2 separate regions of the Homo sapiens genome follow, and region 2 is linked to region 1. The links come from fine-mapping of genetic effects on gene expression. A gene starts in region 1. The other region holds a variant in brackets. All regions are shown on one strand. Distances are between the middles of the regions. Region 1 holds the start of MRPS9 (mitochondrial ribosomal protein S9). Region 2 has its middle 40 kb from the start of LINC02946.

What was found. PIP is the estimated chance that this variant, and not a neighbour inherited with it, causes the effect.
Region 2: its variant is the best candidate, but not a certain one, in a credible set for the expression of MRPS9 in ovary (GTEx, PIP 0.84).

Annotation. Positions count from the first base shown.
Region 1 is chr2:105,035,843-105,041,222 of GRCh38, reverse strand. It overlaps MRPS9 (mitochondrial ribosomal protein S9), which reads right to left and starts at 3,154. Exons shown (of 11, transcript NM_182640.3): 1 at 2,996-3,154. The coding sequence starts at 3,130. MRPS9-AS2 (MRPS9 antisense RNA 2) reads left to right here and starts at 2,727. Exons shown (of 3, transcript NR_110603.1): 1 at 2,727-2,769. RefSeq lists enhancers at 2,172-3,114, 2,868-3,197, 3,368-3,417, 3,468-3,517, 3,538-3,747.
Region 2 is chr2:105,567,702-105,573,081 of GRCh38, reverse strand. No RefSeq gene overlaps it. Among named protein-coding and RNA genes, the nearest start is that of LINC02946, 40 kb to the left of the region's middle. The variant A/G (reference allele first, on the strand shown) is at 2,907.

The DNA.
Region 1 (5,380 bases):
TGATAGAGGATTTATGAATTCATGGGTAACCTTTGTAGTACAGCATGGAAGGAAACTGTCAACTGCTCATAATAATGCTAACACTATTTTCATTTGTGAGAGGTAAAAAATTCAGCTACCTTAGCATAGCAAAACAGATCATACTGATTCCTGCCAAACTTTCCAGACCTGTCTCTGCACCATTCTCTCACCAAAACCCTATGCTATAACCAATTGTTGCTGACAAAGCCCACTATTACTCAGTACATCTCTATACCCTTATGCACCTATTATATCTTCCTTGAATAGAATAGCTTTCTGTTTTCATATAACTCCTATTTGCTGCTAAAGACGCTATTTTCCTTTGCCTCCTCTGGGAAGCTGCCCATGACAATCCTCTACCTGGTCAACAACTCTAGTCTGACTCAGGCATATTACTTCTGTGCTCTTCTGTATTTACCTCTGTAAATATCACAGTACACCATAGATCCCTGATATTCATGGATATACAATCTGAAAAGTTTGGCCATTCATAAGACTGCCTCTTCTGCCCCAAATTTGGGACACTCAGACATTTGCAATTGTATTGAGGCATTAATACAAAACATGCATACCACAAGATTGCTATGCAAGAGGTAGTCTGCTAGTGAAGGTCTCAACTGAGAACCTAGGAATAGCTTAACAAAACTCGCTTCTTTTTCCTTATTGTAACAGTGTTTCTCAAACTTGTTAAACTGTGACCCATTGTAATATTTACTGTTTATATCACCACCTAGTATACATTTACATATATAAACAAAATGCAAAAATACTCTGCATGAAATGCACTTTATTATTATTCTATTCTCCCACACCCTTCAAGTTTTCTGTAACCTCTGAAGAGATTTTGTAATTAAGGAAATTAAAAGTGGAACAAACAAAAGACCAGGTATAGTGTTTTGTCACTCATTAAGTGATTAAAATTTTTATTATTTTATAAAACATGGGCTACCAAGAGAAATCTATCTATTAATGTTGGAGGCAGAAGTGAAAAAATGTTAATGTTTAAGACAGATAAGCTCTGCACCACGATAAAAAAAAAAGCTTTATCAATGTCTTTAGGTATATGTATGCAATCATAAGAATCTAAAGGGGGGTCAGCTAAGTGTTTCAGTTATATCTGAGCTGTACTTAATGTGGTAAAATATATGCTGTAGTAGTATTCAGGAATCTGGGGATTCAGCCATTTCAGGACCATCCCTTAAGAGTGCTAAGGGTGGATACTATCTTGTAATTGTTTGACTTTAAATTGTTTACTTCACAGTGCCTGGCTCAGGTAAAGTGCTCAGTAAACATTTGCCATATGGGGGAAAGAGGTTGTTTCAAGAATGGTCAAGGAGATGAAAATTAAAGTAACAGGAGAAATCATTCTTCATCCATTTTACTAAACCAGTACTTAAGAACTAGACCAGATGTTTACTGAAACTTTATTAGTGCAAAGAAAGTAGAAACAAAGCAAATGTCCATCAATTGTTACATTAACTTTGATATATTCTTATCATGGAATAGTATGCAGCAGTTAAAAATGCTTTTAAAAACATAATAGGGGACCCTGAAGGATTTCTACTTTACAATATACTGCATATGTACAAGAGAAAAGCAGAAAGTAAAATGCAATCAAATATGGTACCATTTTTTGTAAAGTACACCTGTGCATGTATGTTTATGCATGATTATAAGAACATGGAAAAAACATAGAAGAATAGATACCAGGAGGGACAGAAAGTTAGCCATCCCCCAATACATACATTAAATGTCAACAATAAAAATACTCTGTATGATATAGTCCCTCTCATAATCATGCGTATGTAGCAAAGATATACTCAAAGAGATGCATGAAAAAATAAAAATTTCTAGCACATTTTCCAGTAAGAAAAAAAAAAAAAACAAATGTCCACATGAATAGATAGAATGGACTGGTTGATCTAGATTAAAATATAAAGGAAAGAACATACAAAAAGATGTTTTTTTTTTTAAATATAGTTTTTAAAGTATGGTATTTGACTTTCCTGCAATAATTGGTACTTGTTATCACTCTCCCTCCTTGAAACATTCACCTGTTTTCCATGACACCACACTGGCTGGTTTCTCTCCTGCTTCTTTGGTCCCTCATTCTCAATCTCTTGAGGCCTCTTATTTCTTATTTGTCCTTCAGGGCCCTGTCCCTCTGCCTACTCCTCAGTACACTCTCCCTAGGTAATTTAATTTGTTTACAAGGCCTCAGTTACCATTTACAAGGTAACAGGGCATTTCGAAATCAGTTCTCCTCCTGAGCTATACACTTGACTATCCGTAGACCTACTGGAAATCCCAGATGCCTAAAAACATAATCCCATACTAAACTCGTTTCTTCCCTCTCAAATCTTTTTCCTGCTCTGAGATCGCATGTCAGTAAACTGGCATCATCAGCCATCCAGCTGTTGACTCCCCACTTCTCCCTGGATTAAACGAAACGTACAAGTTCTGGCCTGCATCTTTCCATAGAGGGGGATTCGGGAAAATTAAGAAGCCAGAAATTGCGCATATTGAAGGCACTTTCAAAAAGTCACTGTCCTCTACACAACGTGACTTTCTCCATTGTCTTCCAGGCACCTGCAGGAATCCAATTCCCATCATTCTTCTCTGGCGCGGCCCTCCTCCTCCCTAGACAGCAGGGCAGGGTAGGACTGGACCCAACACAGACCTAGGCACCGACCCTTACTTAGCTCAGCAGCCAAATGAAGGAGGAGGTCGCTCCACTTCTACCTTCAGGTAAGTTCCCCTCGCTGCACCCCGCAAAAAAACAAGTAACAACCTCTAGAGCGGCTACTGCACGCCAATACCCACCTCCTCCCCCCCAACCTCAGACCTCCACTAAATACCTAAGATCCTAGAGTCCCTGCCTGAAGGCACGCGAGACGCTGGGGGAAGGTGTCCGCGCTGGCTCCACATCCTCGCGCGGCAGAGGTAAGCCGCTTCCAGTCTTCCCAGGCCTTACCTGGGATCTGACATTTGTTTGCAACTCAGGGGCCGCGGTTTTCCAGAGGCCTTGCTTCCGGGCGAGGCTACCCCTACCCCAGAGAAGAAGCCGGTACGAAACTGCTCCGCCGTAGGACACACAGGGCGCCGCCATGTTAGCTGTGGGAGCTCCAGGACCGGAGGGGTGAGGGGGCGGGGCCTAGAGACGGCGCAGGCGCTAATGGCGCGGGGTTCCAGAGGCTGTCCTGTGCAAGAGCTTCTCGGGCCTTTGGATCAGGGGGCGTGTCCCGCGATCCGCGACAGCTCGTCGCTGATTGGGTGCATGGTGTCCGCGGGGCGTATCCGACTCCACCCCTGCTCGGTGTCGACCTCAAGAAGGATCGCTGGTGGGTCGTTTTTCTCGGCCTCTTTCTCTTCACGTCCTGAACTCAGTCTCTTCGGGACTCACTTCCACGCTCTCCTAGTCTCTTTGGCACTCACATCCACGTGGCGCTTTAGCCAGCCCTTCCTTCCCAGCCCCCTTGCTGCACCTCGAGCCGGCTCTTCCTCCACCTGGGCAGGGCGGCCGGGGCCCCAGATGCGCTCCAAGCCTTGATTCCTGTCTGCCTTATCCTAGTAGGGGTTTTCCCCTCCTCTAACTTTCCACGTTCGTCTGGTTCCAAGTCAAGACTCTCCTGCAGCAACTGTCAAGCCCCTCTCGGTTCCCTGGCACTCTCCTGCGTTGTTTCTTAACTGTATAATGCACAGGATAAACCTTAAACCGGTAAGGTCAAACACTACCTTTCTCGTTTTTGCACGCCCCTCCCTAAGCGTTGGTACTAAGCCTTACTTGAAACCCAATCAGAACTGATTAATTGTTGAATAGAGATGAGTATGTCTTGCTTTCTGAAACTTGCGTGCTCCTGGCAGTTAACTCCCAGGTTGCTTTCTACGAAACACATACTAAATGATGTAGTAACGCACTTTAAAAGGGTTTACACACACTTAGATTTGAAGGGTCAGTAAAAGTAAAACACACAGAAAATCTGAGATCATACAAAGTTGTCAAGCAAATAAATGCCGTCTACTATCACCATCATTTCACGAAACAGAACTTTTTAGCATTAAAAAGGTAGAATGGCAGAATTTCACAATAAAGAAAAATCTTTTAAATGGAATACATTTACTTGTATAAAATGCTCATCCTGTTGTTCTTTTTGTTATTAGCTTTTAGACTAGCAAAAGATATCTTGAGAAATTGGCAGAGGTCGGAGGACTAAACTCTGATTTTTTTATCTTGCCCAAGATTCCTATCTACAGGATTTGGGGAGTCATGCCCTACAAATCATAAATTCTTATTAGATGGGTTTTACTTAACCCTATATATGGTGACTTACTTTCCAACCTGACTCTGGCATAACATTACAAGACAAGGAAGAAAATCAAAATATTTTACCCCAAAACATGTTTCTTTGCCATATCTTGAAATGGCCCTGCAAAGCTGTCCTTGGAGGGGTGGGATATGCATCTGTAAAGAATCTGTATTAACATAGCTAGATCTTTTTCTTCCAGACCCTCCCAATCCTAAAGAGATTAACTAAGATCTGAATAGGAAACATTTGTCATCCATTGTCTCTAAGGGCAGCCACTGTAAGACTTACAGAGAACTTTGGTCTCCACAATCTTTATCTTAAACTGAACATTCCCTTTCTATCAGTCCCAGGTCTTTCTGGACCAAACCAATGTATTTCTTAAATGTGTTTGATTGATGTCTCATGCCTCCCTAAAATGTATAAAATCAAGTTGCGCCCTGACCACCTTGGGCACAAATTCTCAGGACCTGCTGAGGACTGTGTCATGGGCCATGATCACTCATATTTGTCTCAGAATAAATCTCTTCAAAATATTTTACAGAGTTCGACTCTTTTTGTCAACGGATGGATAAACTAGCATTTGGGAATCAAGACTTTATTTATTTATTTATTTTATTTATTTTGAGATGGAAGTTCGCTCTTGTCGTCCAGGCTGCAGTGCAGTGATGTGATCTCGGCTCACTGCACCTTCTGCCTCCCGGGTTCAAGCGATTCTCCTGCCTCAGCCTCCCGAGTAGCTGGGATTATAGGTGCCCACCACCATGCCCAGCTAATTTTTGTGTTTTTAGTAGAGACAGGGTTTCGCCGTGTTGGCCAGGCTGGTCTTGAACTCCTGACCTCAGGTGATCTGCCCGCCTTGGTCTCCCAAAGTGCTAGGATTACAGACGTGAGCCACCGCTTGCAGCAGAGAACCAAGACTTTATAGCTCATTAAAATAGATGTCTTTAAACAGCAGTTCCTACACATTGTGAGATTATTTAAAAATTTTTTAAAATCTTAATTGTGGAAATTTAACCAAGTAGAAAACAGTGAGTATGTGGAAGCAGGATTTA
Region 2 (5,380 bases), 530 kb before region 1:
GGTAACTTCTACAGTGGAGTCAAATTATACATACAAACTTGTGCACATTCAATTGCATGTGTGGAGAGAGACCAATTTAAATAAATTAAAGGGATTAAGAAATAGGGACATTTCCACCCCACCTCCCCCCATTCTACTCAGAGAGAACACTCAAGCAAGAGGAAATTGGAGGAGGGACTTTGCTGTTTCCTCAGATCGCCTTGGTCCCAGGCTCCCCCCATTGGGTAGAATGTGAGTCTAGGGTGGACAGAGGTCTCTTTTGTGCACATATGCCCCGAAATGCAGGCCAATGACATCACCTGGTGCCCAGGTTGGGAACAGGCTCTGGAGGAGATGCCAGTGTGCGGGGTCATGGAGCATGGCTCAGGGCACACCTCCTCAAACCGGCTGTAGTGAAAACCAGTGTCCTCCACCTCTCCCAGACCCCTGAAGGTCCAACAGTCCCTGACAGCACGTGACTCATACTGCCTGCATCTCAGCACATGCTGAACAGCACCTGCCCTGGTCTCAGACCCACCCACAAGCCAAGGCCACTGATTGCAGCTAGTGGCTGCTGCAGCCACGCCAAAGGCACAAGTTTCTACTCACTTGACTCTCATTTCTGTGCTTTTCTCATTGAGGGCTGGTAACAGACAGTCAGAGACCAGCCCTACCCATAGACCTCACTTTGAGGAGCCACGTGTCCTATTGAGATAACTTAGAGGGTATTCAGAATGGAGGCTGAATGAGACATCCCCCTTCCTTCACTCCTAAGCCCTACCCAAGACAGGCCTCCCCTCGGTAGAGAACACCACCTTTCCCTGTGTGTCTTCTTTCCAGTCCTTTCACCATTGGTTCTCCCTTCCTTAACCAACCTCTCTTCCCCAAATTCCCACCACACATCTCTAGCCTGGCCATCCCAGCCTTCTTGCCCTCCTAGCAGCAGAGTCATTCTTGCAGACATGACCTTGCCTTTTTCAAACTGTGACACAACCCAATATGACCAGACCTTGCTTTGTTTCATGGGGTCTTAAGTTTTAAAGAAATAAAACAGTGAGCCCGTTTGCTCCTTCATATAGGCTCTGGGGTCCTAATGGGAAGGGCTGGCAGGTGAGTGGGGAGAGGGAAAGGTGAGAAGGGGGAGTCAGCCTCATGGGGGGCATTGGGTAGGTGTAAGGAGAAAGCCAGTGGCCAGTGAGGACAGCCACACCTGCCAAGGACAGCCAGGAGGCCCCTCAGGGCTACCAGGGACACCTCAGCCTCAAACCAGGGCAGAAGAAGACCACACGTTTCTCTTCCTCTTCAGATCTTCCTCTTCTCAGCCGCGTTGTGGTAGTAATTGAAGGAGTTGGTGGTTGGTGATTACTCAGTGTAATGCTACTGATGAAATCGGTCATTCCGTGCCTGCCACACATCCAGGCCTCTCAGTTCTGACCCTGCTGCCCCAAGGCCTCCACAGGGACCCTTGGAATGTCCTGCTTTGCTGGCTTCCTGGAAAACTGGGGCTCTTGGTGACACTGGATCGCACTGGATCGCCCTGTATCCTTTTGTTCGTACTTCATATTTTGCAAGCACTGTGGCTGCAAGTTGAATGAGAACAATTCGAATGTCCATTGACAGTTGAATGGGAGAACAGAATGTGGTCTAGACATGCAGTGGAATATTATTCAGCCTTGAGGAGGAGGGAAGCCCTGACACATGCTACAATATGGATTAATCTTGAGGACATTACGCTGAGTGAAATAAGCCATCACAAAAGGAAAAATACTGCATGATTCTACTTGTATGACGTCCCTAACATCCCTAGAGTAGTCAGATTCACAGAGACAGAAAGTAGAATGGTGGGGGGTGGGTGTCGGGCTGGGAGGAGGAAGAAGGGGAGTTAGCATTTAATGGGTGCAGAGCTTGGGATGACAAAAATGTCCTGTAGGTGGATGGTGGTGATAGATGCACAGCAAAGTGAATGTACTCAATGCCACCGAACTGTATTCTTGAAAATGTCAAAAATAGAAATTGCATATTACATCTATTTTACCATAATTTTAAAAAGTTAAATTAACAAACACTTCATTGTGTTTGTTGTGCAGCTTTTAATGAAGACTCAGTCAGCACACATGGAGCACCTGCCTGGCCGCGGTCATGCCAACCCTGTTCCAGGAGCCAGCAGTGCAGCTGCAAGGCACCTTCTGTCCTGCAGGGACTTAGATTCCAGGGGAGGACAGGGGAGGAGGCAGAGAAACAAAAACAAGCAGTAATTTTAGGTAGCCATAAGTGATGGGTAGAAAAATAAGGCCAGGTAGGAGGCCGCAGAGGAAAGCTGGTAGGGGAGGGAGAGTATTCTTGATAGAGATTGAAGGGCCAGGAAAGCCCCCCAAACCCCACTCCAAGAGGTGGGATTTGAGCAGAGATCTTGGTGAATTTGGTGATGGAGGGGTGTGCAATCTGGTGCAGAGGCTCTGGGGGAGAGAATATTCAAGAACAACAGGGAGACCCTGTGATGGGACTCAGTGGGAAAGGCATGGAGTAGAAGGCGGTGGATCTGGAAGGGAGCGACACCGGGTGGTGTCGGAGCCTGTGCACCGCAGCGTGTCACCAGGTGTTGCTCTGAGGGGATGGGAAGCCCCTGGAGGGTGAGCATGCTCACCTATGGAGCCGCAGGGCTGAGTTAACAAGTTTCTTCCGGCTGCTGTTTGTGGCCTCTGCTGCAAGGAGGAAGAGAGAAGGAGCACTGGAGATGCATTTGGGGGTTGGTACAATGTTCAGAGGATGTTGGCAGTGTGGGCCGGCATGCTGGGATGGAGTTGGTAAGAAGGGGTTGGTCACAATATATTTCAACATTAGAGCCAGCAGGACCTGAGGATAAAATCGATGTGAGGTGTGAGGGAAAGAGAGGGCTCAGTGTGCTCTGCACACCTTCCGGAGGGGGC[A/G]GTTACAGAACGGCGGGGCTATTGTCTGAGAGAGGGGATCTCGGGATGGAGGAGTCATGCAAGTGTGGCTGTGTGATGGCTGAGGCTGGCTAGACATCCAGGTAGGGATGGCATGTAGGAAGTTGGAAATCGCAGTCTGGCTGAGGATTTTCAATTACTGCATGGAGATGGCATTCATAATTTAAAGCCACAGGAGATGAGAGATTACCTAAGAAGCGAGGGTACCCAGAGACTAGGATGAAACCCTGGGGCTCTCCATGGTTCAGATGCCATGTTTCTCTCCATGAGGCCAAGACAAGTAGGTCCTTCTGCATCCTGCTCCTCACTCACAGTGGCTGACGGGCTGAGGCATCTTCCTACTCGGCCGTTCCCAGCTCTGCGGCTCCCTGTTGCTGGGTATTCCTCTATGTGCTGCTTCCAGCTCAGGCATTCTCAGCCCTGGCTATACAATAGAATCACCCCGGCAGCCTTTCAAAAATACCATTGCCCTGGGACCATTCTGTATAAATTGAAATAGAATCTTTGGGGTGGGATGCAAAGCCTCTGGATATTTTGAAAAGGCAATTCTGATGCACAGTTGAGGTTGAGAACAGCATATTCCACGCGACTTGGTGCACATGGATGCATGTGTGCATTTTGGCTTGTCCCACAACCTGCTGTGGAGGATCTCTGGGTTCTTTAAAAAGAATGTCTTATGACAAAGCATGGTGGTTCATTCCTGTAATCCCAGCACTTTGAGAGGCCTAAGCAGTTGGATCACCTGAGGCCAGGAGTTCAAGACCAGCCTGACCAACATGGTGAAACTCTATCTCTACCAAAATTACAAAAATTGGCCAGGGGTGGTGGTGTGTGCCTATAATTGCAGCTACTCAGGAGACTGAGGCAGGAGGATTGCTTGAACCTGGGAGGCAGAGGTTGCAGTAAGCTCAGATCGCACCACTACAATCCAGCCTGGGCAACAGAGTGAGACTCCAACTCAAAAAAAAAAAAAAAAAAAAAAAGAAAGAAAGAAAGAAAAAAGAAAAAGAAAAGAAAAAAAAGTCTTACAGCTGGTCTGCCTGTTCTCAAGCTTCTGTGGTCTTAGATATTAGATCCAGGTGGATTTGTCACGATAACTGGACCACAAGAAAAAAAAAATAAAACCCAAGATATATCTTACAAGAAAACACTTGTAAATTGTTCTCCTTTTTTATATTGGTCTGTTGGGTATAATTTCAGCCATTTTTCTGTGCATTTAAAAGCATTTTTATGCACAAATGTAATATATTGTTTTGTTTGGGGTGGGTGTATATATTTATACTAAATATATAACACTACAATTTGCCTTTCTTTTTTCACTTTAACAACATGACCAGGAACTCTTTTGATAGGGGAATGCGAAGGCCTGGTCTGTAGACCCTAGTATATATGGCTACATTTAAGTTTAATTAAAATTAAATAAAATTTCAAATTCAGTTCCTCCATCATGCTAGCAGCCGTGTCTCAAGTGCCTGGTGGCCACATGTGGCCATGGCTGTCACACCGGACAGCACAGATAGTGAACATTTCCATCGTCACAGAAAGTCCTACGGGACAGCGCTGGGTAGGGCATTCTTAGCTAAGGCGTCCTCACCCATAGCATGGATGTGTAAGAGTTAGAAAAAGAATTTTTTTTTTCAAACCTTCAGTGAAGAGAAAAGAACACTTTAGTGAGGTCTTTCATGTGAAAAAGTAGGTCACAGCAAATAGTTTCTCCAAGGGGCGGAAATCAATTCCGTGAGAGTATGAGGTGGCAGCGAGGCATTTAGAGCTCAAAGACTTCTCTGCAAATGGTTGTTTCGCCCTTGCTTGGAGGTTTTTAGATTCCCTTGCCACCTTTGTCATCTGCAAACCGTAACGACACCCCTCACACCCTGGTGTTTTCCTGACTGCCTCAAAGGCTCTCCTTGCACACCGCACCCCACCGTCTTTCACTGCGATGCTGCCTCCGTATTCATGGGCTTCCCGTGTCCGCTGCTCTGTAAACAGTCTGGCGAAGACCTATTCTGCAGGGGTGTCATTTATTCTAAGGTGAGAGAATGCATATGGATGAGAGTGCCTCAACGAGAGAGCATAGCTGTGTGCTCTCCGGTGTCCAGCACTGACCCGATGATAGCATTTAACTCTCCCTGGGAGGGGACGCAGTGCTTTAAAAACATTCCAGACGCTCCCTAATGGTTTTGCCTGAGTCTCTGGCATCAGAATTGGCAGGTTCTTGTCTACAGGTATTGAATGCACAGGGTCTCACTTCTTACTGAGAAACTACAGACACAGGGGGCAATGAGAAAGGAAGAAGCCCCAAACGCAGCTGACTTATAACTAAATGTTTAAACACTTAAAATGTTTAAACACAACACACATTCTGAGTTTGGATGGATACTGTGTGGAATGTTTAGTTAAATGAATCATGCTTATGCTGTTTTTTTTTTTTTTTTGAGATGGAGTCTCGCTCTGTC